2 linked regions of the Homo sapiens genome follow. The protein of the gene in region 2 interacts with the protein of the main gene of each other region in a pairwise test. Each region holds a gene or a part of one and is shown on either strand. Other genes may lie near its edges.

What was found. Proteins that work in one complex are often made in the same cells at the same time.
Region 1: the proteins of AGT (region 2) and TMEM185A interact in binary tests that used the Homo sapiens proteins (3 or more experiments, as listed by UniProt).

Annotation. Positions count from the first base shown.
Region 1 is NC_000023.11:149,625,293-149,628,792, reverse strand, and holds part of TMEM185A (transmembrane protein 185A), read left to right. Parts: intron 1-3,500.
Region 2 is NC_000001.11:230,704,123-230,707,622, forward strand, and holds part of AGT (angiotensinogen precursor), read right to left. Parts: intron 2,079-3,500; coding exon 1,811-2,078; intron 216-1,810; coding exon 71-215; intron 1-70. UniProt on the Homo sapiens protein: Essential component of the renin-angiotensin system (RAS), a potent regulator of blood pressure, body fluid and electrolyte homeostasis.

The sequences.
Region 1 (3,500 bases), on a different chromosome or scaffold from region 2:
GCAGCCATTGCTTTGGAGAGATGGGAGAGAACATGGCACTAAGGCAGAATATGGCTATATTTACTTTGAAGAGCATGTCTTTGTCATAGAAATAGTCACTGTCATGGTTTGGTGGGTCCCAAGGCATGGGTCATGGCTCCAGATCCCCTTTCCAGCCTTTTGGATCTTGGTAAGTCTGAACCCACTGCTGCGTTGGCAAGGCTCTGGAAACTATAGTGACAGAGAATGATTCACAAGTGTCAACACTCAGATGTACAGGGCTGCCAGCTGACCCACTCTACCTATTTCCATCTGGCACTGAACTGGTTGATCATGAACTTCTTTTCATAATTGCTTTTTAGTTATGCAGGTTAAGACATGCCGAAACAGATGTACCGGACCCACAAACAAGTCCTTCCTTGAATGCCTGAGGCTTCCTAACAGTGAAAGAGCCCTGTTCTTAGAGTAGGCAAACTGATTCTGAGGCATTGTAGGTGGTAGGGATCTGGTAGTAGGTAGCATTAGGTGGGCTCCCGGCACTCACCATGGAGCCTTGAAATTTTCTGCTACTTTGGGGGAGTTGCTGGTTCAGAGAAGGCCCTTCCACCCTGGTAGCCATGTGGCACTGGAAGGCTGTGAAAACTCTGCTGGGCCTTCTTAGTCATCTGTTGTGAGCTCCTGATGGGAGTGTGGTGTATCCCTCAGGTGTGCTAGACTGGAACAAAGGCTGAGAAGTGTTGCTCTGGGGGTTCCAACTTGTGGGCATGGGGTACTGATGAGATCAGTAGTGTTTGGAGACTTCTGTATGCTCCATCTTCAGAAGACATTCTGGAGTCCATATAAGTTATCTTGTCTCTTGTTTGAAGCAGGAAAAAGGAATGCGATTGCTGGTAATATAGTTCACTAAAGTCAGCTACCTGGCCTCTAACAGTTATTTGCAAAGTATATTATAACATTGATTCCTCAAACATCTAGATTCCTATCTCGTGCCAAGTGATGTACTAGGTGCTCTAAGTACAAAAATAAAGGAATATAGTCCTCCTCTCAATGCGTAAGCCTAGTGGAAGAAGCAGAAATGAAAGGGAAATAAGAATTCAATAGAGTATGAGGCATTACAGTGAAAGAAACCAAATGTCTTAGAAGTACAAATGGCAGAGCTACTAATTCTGTCTCGAGCAGGCAGGGAAGAGTCTATAGTGGAAATGACTTTTGAGCTAGATTTTGAATTGAGCTAGTCTTTTGAGCCAGACTTTTGAGCTAGAATTGTAGGGTTGTCATCAGACCAGAGAGTAGGAAGGGTACCTTGTGAGGAAGAGAGAGAGAGATCAGATTGTTACTGTGTCTATGTAGAAAAGGAAGACATAAGAAACTCCATTTTGATCTGTACTAAGAAAAATTGTTTCTGCTTTGAGATGCTGTTAACCTGTAACTTTAGTCCCAACCCTGTGCTCACAGAAACCTGTGCTGTAATGAATCAAGGTTTAATGGATTTAGGGCTGTGCAGGATGTACCTTGTTAACAATATGTTTGCAGGCAGTATGCTTGGTAAAAGTCATCGCCATTCTCCATTCTCGATTAACCAGGGACACAGTGCACTGCGGAAGGCCGCAGGGACATCTGCCCAAGAAAGCCTGGGTATTGTCCAAGGTTTCCCCCCACTGAGACAGCCTGAGATATGGCCTTGTGGGAAAGGAAAGACCTTACCACCCCCCAGCCCGACACCCGTAAAGTGTCTGTGCTGAGGAGGAGTAGTGAAAGAGCGGGGCCTCTTTGCAGTTGAGATAAGAGGAAGGCTTCTGTCTCCTGCTCATCCCTGGGAATGGAATGTCTCTGTGTAAAGCTGACCATTCCCATTCGTTCTATTCTGAGATAGGAGAAAACCACCCTGTGGCTGGAGGCGAAGTATGCTGGCAGCAATACTGCTCTGTTACTCTTTGCTACACTGAGTTGTTTGGGTAAAGAGAAACATAAATCTAGCCTGCGTGCACATCCAGGCACAGTACCTTTCCTTGAACTTATTCATGATACAGATTCCTTTGCTCACGTTTCCCTGCTGACCTTCTCCCCACCTGTTGCCCTGCTACACTCCCCTCGCTAAGATAGTAAAAATAATGATCAGTAAATACTGAGGTAACTCAGAGGCTAGCGCTGGTGCGGGTCCTCCGTATGCTGAGTGCCGGTCCCCTGGGCCCACTGTTCTTTCTCTATACTTTGTTTCTGTGTCTTATTTCTTTTCTCAGTCTCGTCCCACCTGACGAGAAATACCCACAGGTGTGGAGGGGCTGGCCCCTTTCAGTATCTCAGAAGGGACAAAGTACACAAAGGCATGGGGTCATGATAGTGCCTGGTATGTTCAGGTAGTGAAGAGGTCCATGTGGTATGAGCACTGCAGATGATATGTGTCGTATGAATTAAAAATACATAGTTACTGCAAATAGTTTTTACAGGTTATTGTTTTTAAGAAAGCAGTATCTAATGCACGAGTGTACTGTCAGTACTGTCAATGAACTACTTACCACTCAAGTGACTGCTTATCTGTTGTTCTGTCCTCTCAAGCCACCTACAGTCAGAAAATGGTCTTGATTTTACTGATGTTGCTGTTAATAATAGCTGTGACTTCTTGAGTACCCACCACATGCCAGGCCCAATGTAGGGGCTTTGCATCCATTATCCATGATCTTTACAACAACCCTGCAAAATTAGGTATCAGCCTTATTTTAAAGTCTTGACAGCTTGTGACTTCCCTGAAGTTGCATAGGCAGGAAGAATCTAAGTCAACATTCGAATCCACGTCAGTCTCATGAAGCCTGTGCTCTTTCCTGCGTGCCATGCCATAGTTCTAGTTAAGTGACAACTCCTTTCCTCCATGACATTGTAGATCCAGTATGCTAAGGAACCCTCTATTTACAAATTGTAAGTGATTAAACAAAACAAACCTGTTAGTGGCGCTTATACATCCAAATGAGTGTTGTTATTCAAAGAGGTTACTTGGGGAAAGAGAATGTATACACCTATTCCATTGTTCATACTCCTTGTTACTCATCTGGAATTCCCTTTAAAGTCAGTTTACATATCACATAAGAAGATCCATCTCATTGCTTTATGATCATCTATCATTTTCAACCAAAATAGTTCCACCTAGTTTGATCACACATCTTATTCACTAACCTTGGCTCTGACTGACTGTTTGCCATTTCCAAAATTTGAATCCACCCTCAGTGAAAATTTAGCACCATTTGGGATAGTCAGAAGATCAGACTGCAGGTTCTCAAGGTGCTTCCAAGAAGAAAGCTTCAAAGATGATTTGAGTAATGAAGTACCATTGGAATTACTGCATTGCCTCCCAAGGGGACTGGTTAAAGGAGAGAAATCTCATTTGAATGTATAATTTCCAGTTTTAAAAGTATCATTCCTATTACTTGATAATTACACACACATTGTTCTTAGCTGTGTTCTTTGAGGGCCAGGATTTGGAGGTGCTGAATTACGTGCTGAATGAGTGGATGTTGGGTACAAATAGA
Region 2 (3,500 bases):
TTACATCCATGCCTCCCACCCTGTGCACACTTGGAACCCAGGTCAGGCACAGACACAGGCTCACACATACCTCCCCCACCCTGATGCGGTCATTGCTCAATTTTTGCAGGTTCAGCTCGGTGTGCAGAATGGCGGGCAGCTCAGCCTGGGCGAGCAGGTCCTGCAGGTCATAAGATCCTTGCAGCACCAGTTGGGGCATGGTCAGGTGGATGGTCCTGGGGAGATGATGCACAGTTAGGAAGGCTCCAGGCCACACAGTGAGGGCTCTCCCAGAGGCCAGGCAGGCTTATGCTCCTTGCACCCAACCCTGACGACAGGGATGTTTGCTCCCCCCATCACCCAACTAAGTCATCCTCCCCCTTGGGGAAAATTTCAGCAAAACCTACAATAAAAATCCTTCATGTCATTTGCAATACTATGTGAGGGACATAGAAGATTTACCGATGAGGACCTAGGAATGGTTGTCCTTTGGTGCATTCTGTTTTTAGGTTGGCTGCATTGAAGGTGTGTTACTTGGGTAATTTTTAAATGCTATTCTCTGAAATAATGCACTGTGTCTTACTACTGCCACAGCAGTGTTCTTGATGACATGACACCCATGAAAAGGAGAGAGGCAGGAGGGTACAGTGTCAACCTCGTGCTGGACACGTTGCTATGTCAACTCGATTGATCTTCGTATAGAGCCTCTTCCATCTTTTGGCATCCTTCAGAGCCCATGGACATTTCCAGTGATGTATCAAGCACTTATAAGAGCTGACAGTACACCCATGTTTACAGGGTACACTGCACTATTCACAGCAGCTCAAAGGTGGAAGCAACCCACGTGTCCATCGATGGATGAGTGGATACACAAAAGGTGGTAACCACATGCAATGGAATATTATTCAGCCTTCAAAAGGAAGGACATTCTGACATGTGCTACAACATGGGTGAACCTCGAGGACATCGTGGTGGTTGCCGGGGCCAAGGGGAAGGGGAAATGGAGAGTTAGTGTTTCAGCAGGACAGAGCTTCAGTTTGGGAAGTTGAGAAGATAAATGGAGATGGACGGGGGTGATGGCTGCACAACAGTGTGAATGGGCCTAGTACCACTGAACTGTGCACTCGAAAATGGTTACGATGGCAAATTTTGTTACGTATATTTTACCATCACAATTTTTAAAACATAAAAAACACCCAGAGTTGATGTCAAGCCATCGTGTCACTCAATGCCTGCCTCTGGGAGCAGATTTCCAGGCCTCGATGATCTGGGGTGATGTGTAGTTTGAGTCCAGGGCTCTGTGGAAAGGAATTGCAGCAGGAAAGAGGAGCTAACAACACCTATCCCCACCCAGCCGCCAGCCGCCAGCAAGGGCGTTCTGGAGTCAAGGGACGCTCCCTGAGAAGGCCCCACCCCCGCTCACGCGAAGTCCGAACCCTCCTGGCAAGTCAGTTCCAAGAAGCTCTTGGATGTCACAGGTGTGCTGTGTGTCAGGTGTGGGACCAAAATGGTCCTCTCTCAGAGGGCGGATTGCAATGTTTTCTCCCCCTCCAAAACTACCAGGCAAGTGTAAGTGTAGAAAAAGCATTCTTCCTCTCCTCCTTTACCTTGCCTGCACTTGAAAGACAGACACTAACTGGAGAGCTGGGTGCTGGCTGGATAGAGGACTGGTAGACAGACACACAGGCCGCCTGCCCAGCCCCGTGCCACCGCGGCCCTGCCCTGCTCTGCACCCAAGGCTCAGCTCAGGTGTGTCTACTCCCCACCCCGCCCCCAGCCTGGGCAGGACAGTGTGGCTCCCACATTCCAGGGGAGACCGGGAGGCTCCTACCGGGGAGATAGTTTCTTCATCCAGTTGAGGGAGTTTTGCTGGAAAGTGAGACCCTCCACCTTGTCCAGGTCAGAGGCATAGTGAGGCTGGATCAGCAGCAGGCAGGCGCTCTCAGTGAAGGGCACTTGAGTCACCGAGAAGTTGTCCTGGATGTCACTCCAGTGCTGGAAGGTGCCCATGCCAGAGAGCATGGGAACAGACACTGAGGTGCTGTTGTCCACCCAGAACTCCTGGGGCTCGGCCAGCAGGGAGAAGCCCTTCATCTTCCCTGAAATCCAGACAGGAGACAGGGAGGGAAGAGTCACCCAAGACAGGGGCAGGAATGAGGGCTGGCAGACACCAAAGGCCCAGATCCTGCCCCTCGCCCTGCCTCAGCCTCCTTCCTTGGCCCCCCCCAGGCCACTCTGCATTCTCCTGGCCACAGGACCGCAAGTGTGGCTCAAATATTTCTCCTGTAAAATGCAGCCATTTGAGTTCACTGAGGCAGCCCTAACCGCCACCTGCAAGACACACAACATGCCAGGCACCAAACCGGGGGTTTTGCATCTGTCACCTTAAGGGACATAAGCCACTGGTACCTGCCAGGTCAACTCAAACCTAGAACTGTCCTGACCCAAAGGCTGTGGTTTGACACACTCACTTTTTAAAAAATTTAAGAGATGTTATTTTTTAGAGTGACTTTAGGTTCACAGCAAAATCGAGCAGAAAGTACAGAAAGTTCCCATATAACTCTTGTCCCCCACTACACAGCCTCCCCCGTGATCAACATCTCACACCAGCGTGGCCCATTTGTTGCAACTGACGAACCTACACTGACACGTCCTCAGCACTCAAAGTTGATAGTTTTCTTTGAGTCTCCCTCCTGGTGTTTTACATTCTGTAGGTTTGGACGCACGTAGAATGACATGTGGCCACCACCGCACTATCCCACCACTCCTAGAGGCCCCTGCTCATACTCACTTTTTAATCCATGTCTAGCCCCAGCCATGGCAGAGCCCACCAGCTGTCCTGTGGCCCCCACCCTCCCCCATCACAGTCATAGAATACAGAGTGGGCCACGCAGGCCCCGGAAACGAGGGCTCCATTCCTCAGCAGCCCTTGCTACTGGGGAGACTCACACAACCTCGTTGTGATGAATGGATTTGCACACTGGGCCTTGGGGGCAGGGGTGAGCCCTCTGTTTCCCCTCCTGCTCACAGGGCCGTGCAGATGACAGAGAACTCGGGAGAGCCCGTTGTGGGAGAAGGACACAAATTTGTGTGTGACGCAGTTACCTGGGGTCTTTCCATGACAGCAGCCCACCCTCTGCCTCGACCTTACACTAGCACATCCCTGCCCTCGGCTGTCCTCCCACTCATCCTGAAAGGCCTATTCTGCGGTTGTTCTTAGGAGAATAGGGTGAAGTTGTGTATAAGTTTGTCACAGAACAGTCCCCTGGGCACGTGGCACTTGGGAGTCTGAGTAGAGATGGTTCAGAAACAGTGAGGTCTCCCTTTGTACTGAATTGGAGGTCCCAGCATGAAAGTAGGGCAGCTGGGAGGACAGAACTGGCAGGCAGGAGCTGGGCATGGCTGTGCCTCCCCTGGGTCCGGGTCTCGTAAGAAGGCAGTGGCAGACCTGGCATATTTCTCGTCCTCAGTCCTCGGAGCACTCAGTCTCGGAAGGGCATGTGAGCGGGAAACTGCAGGGT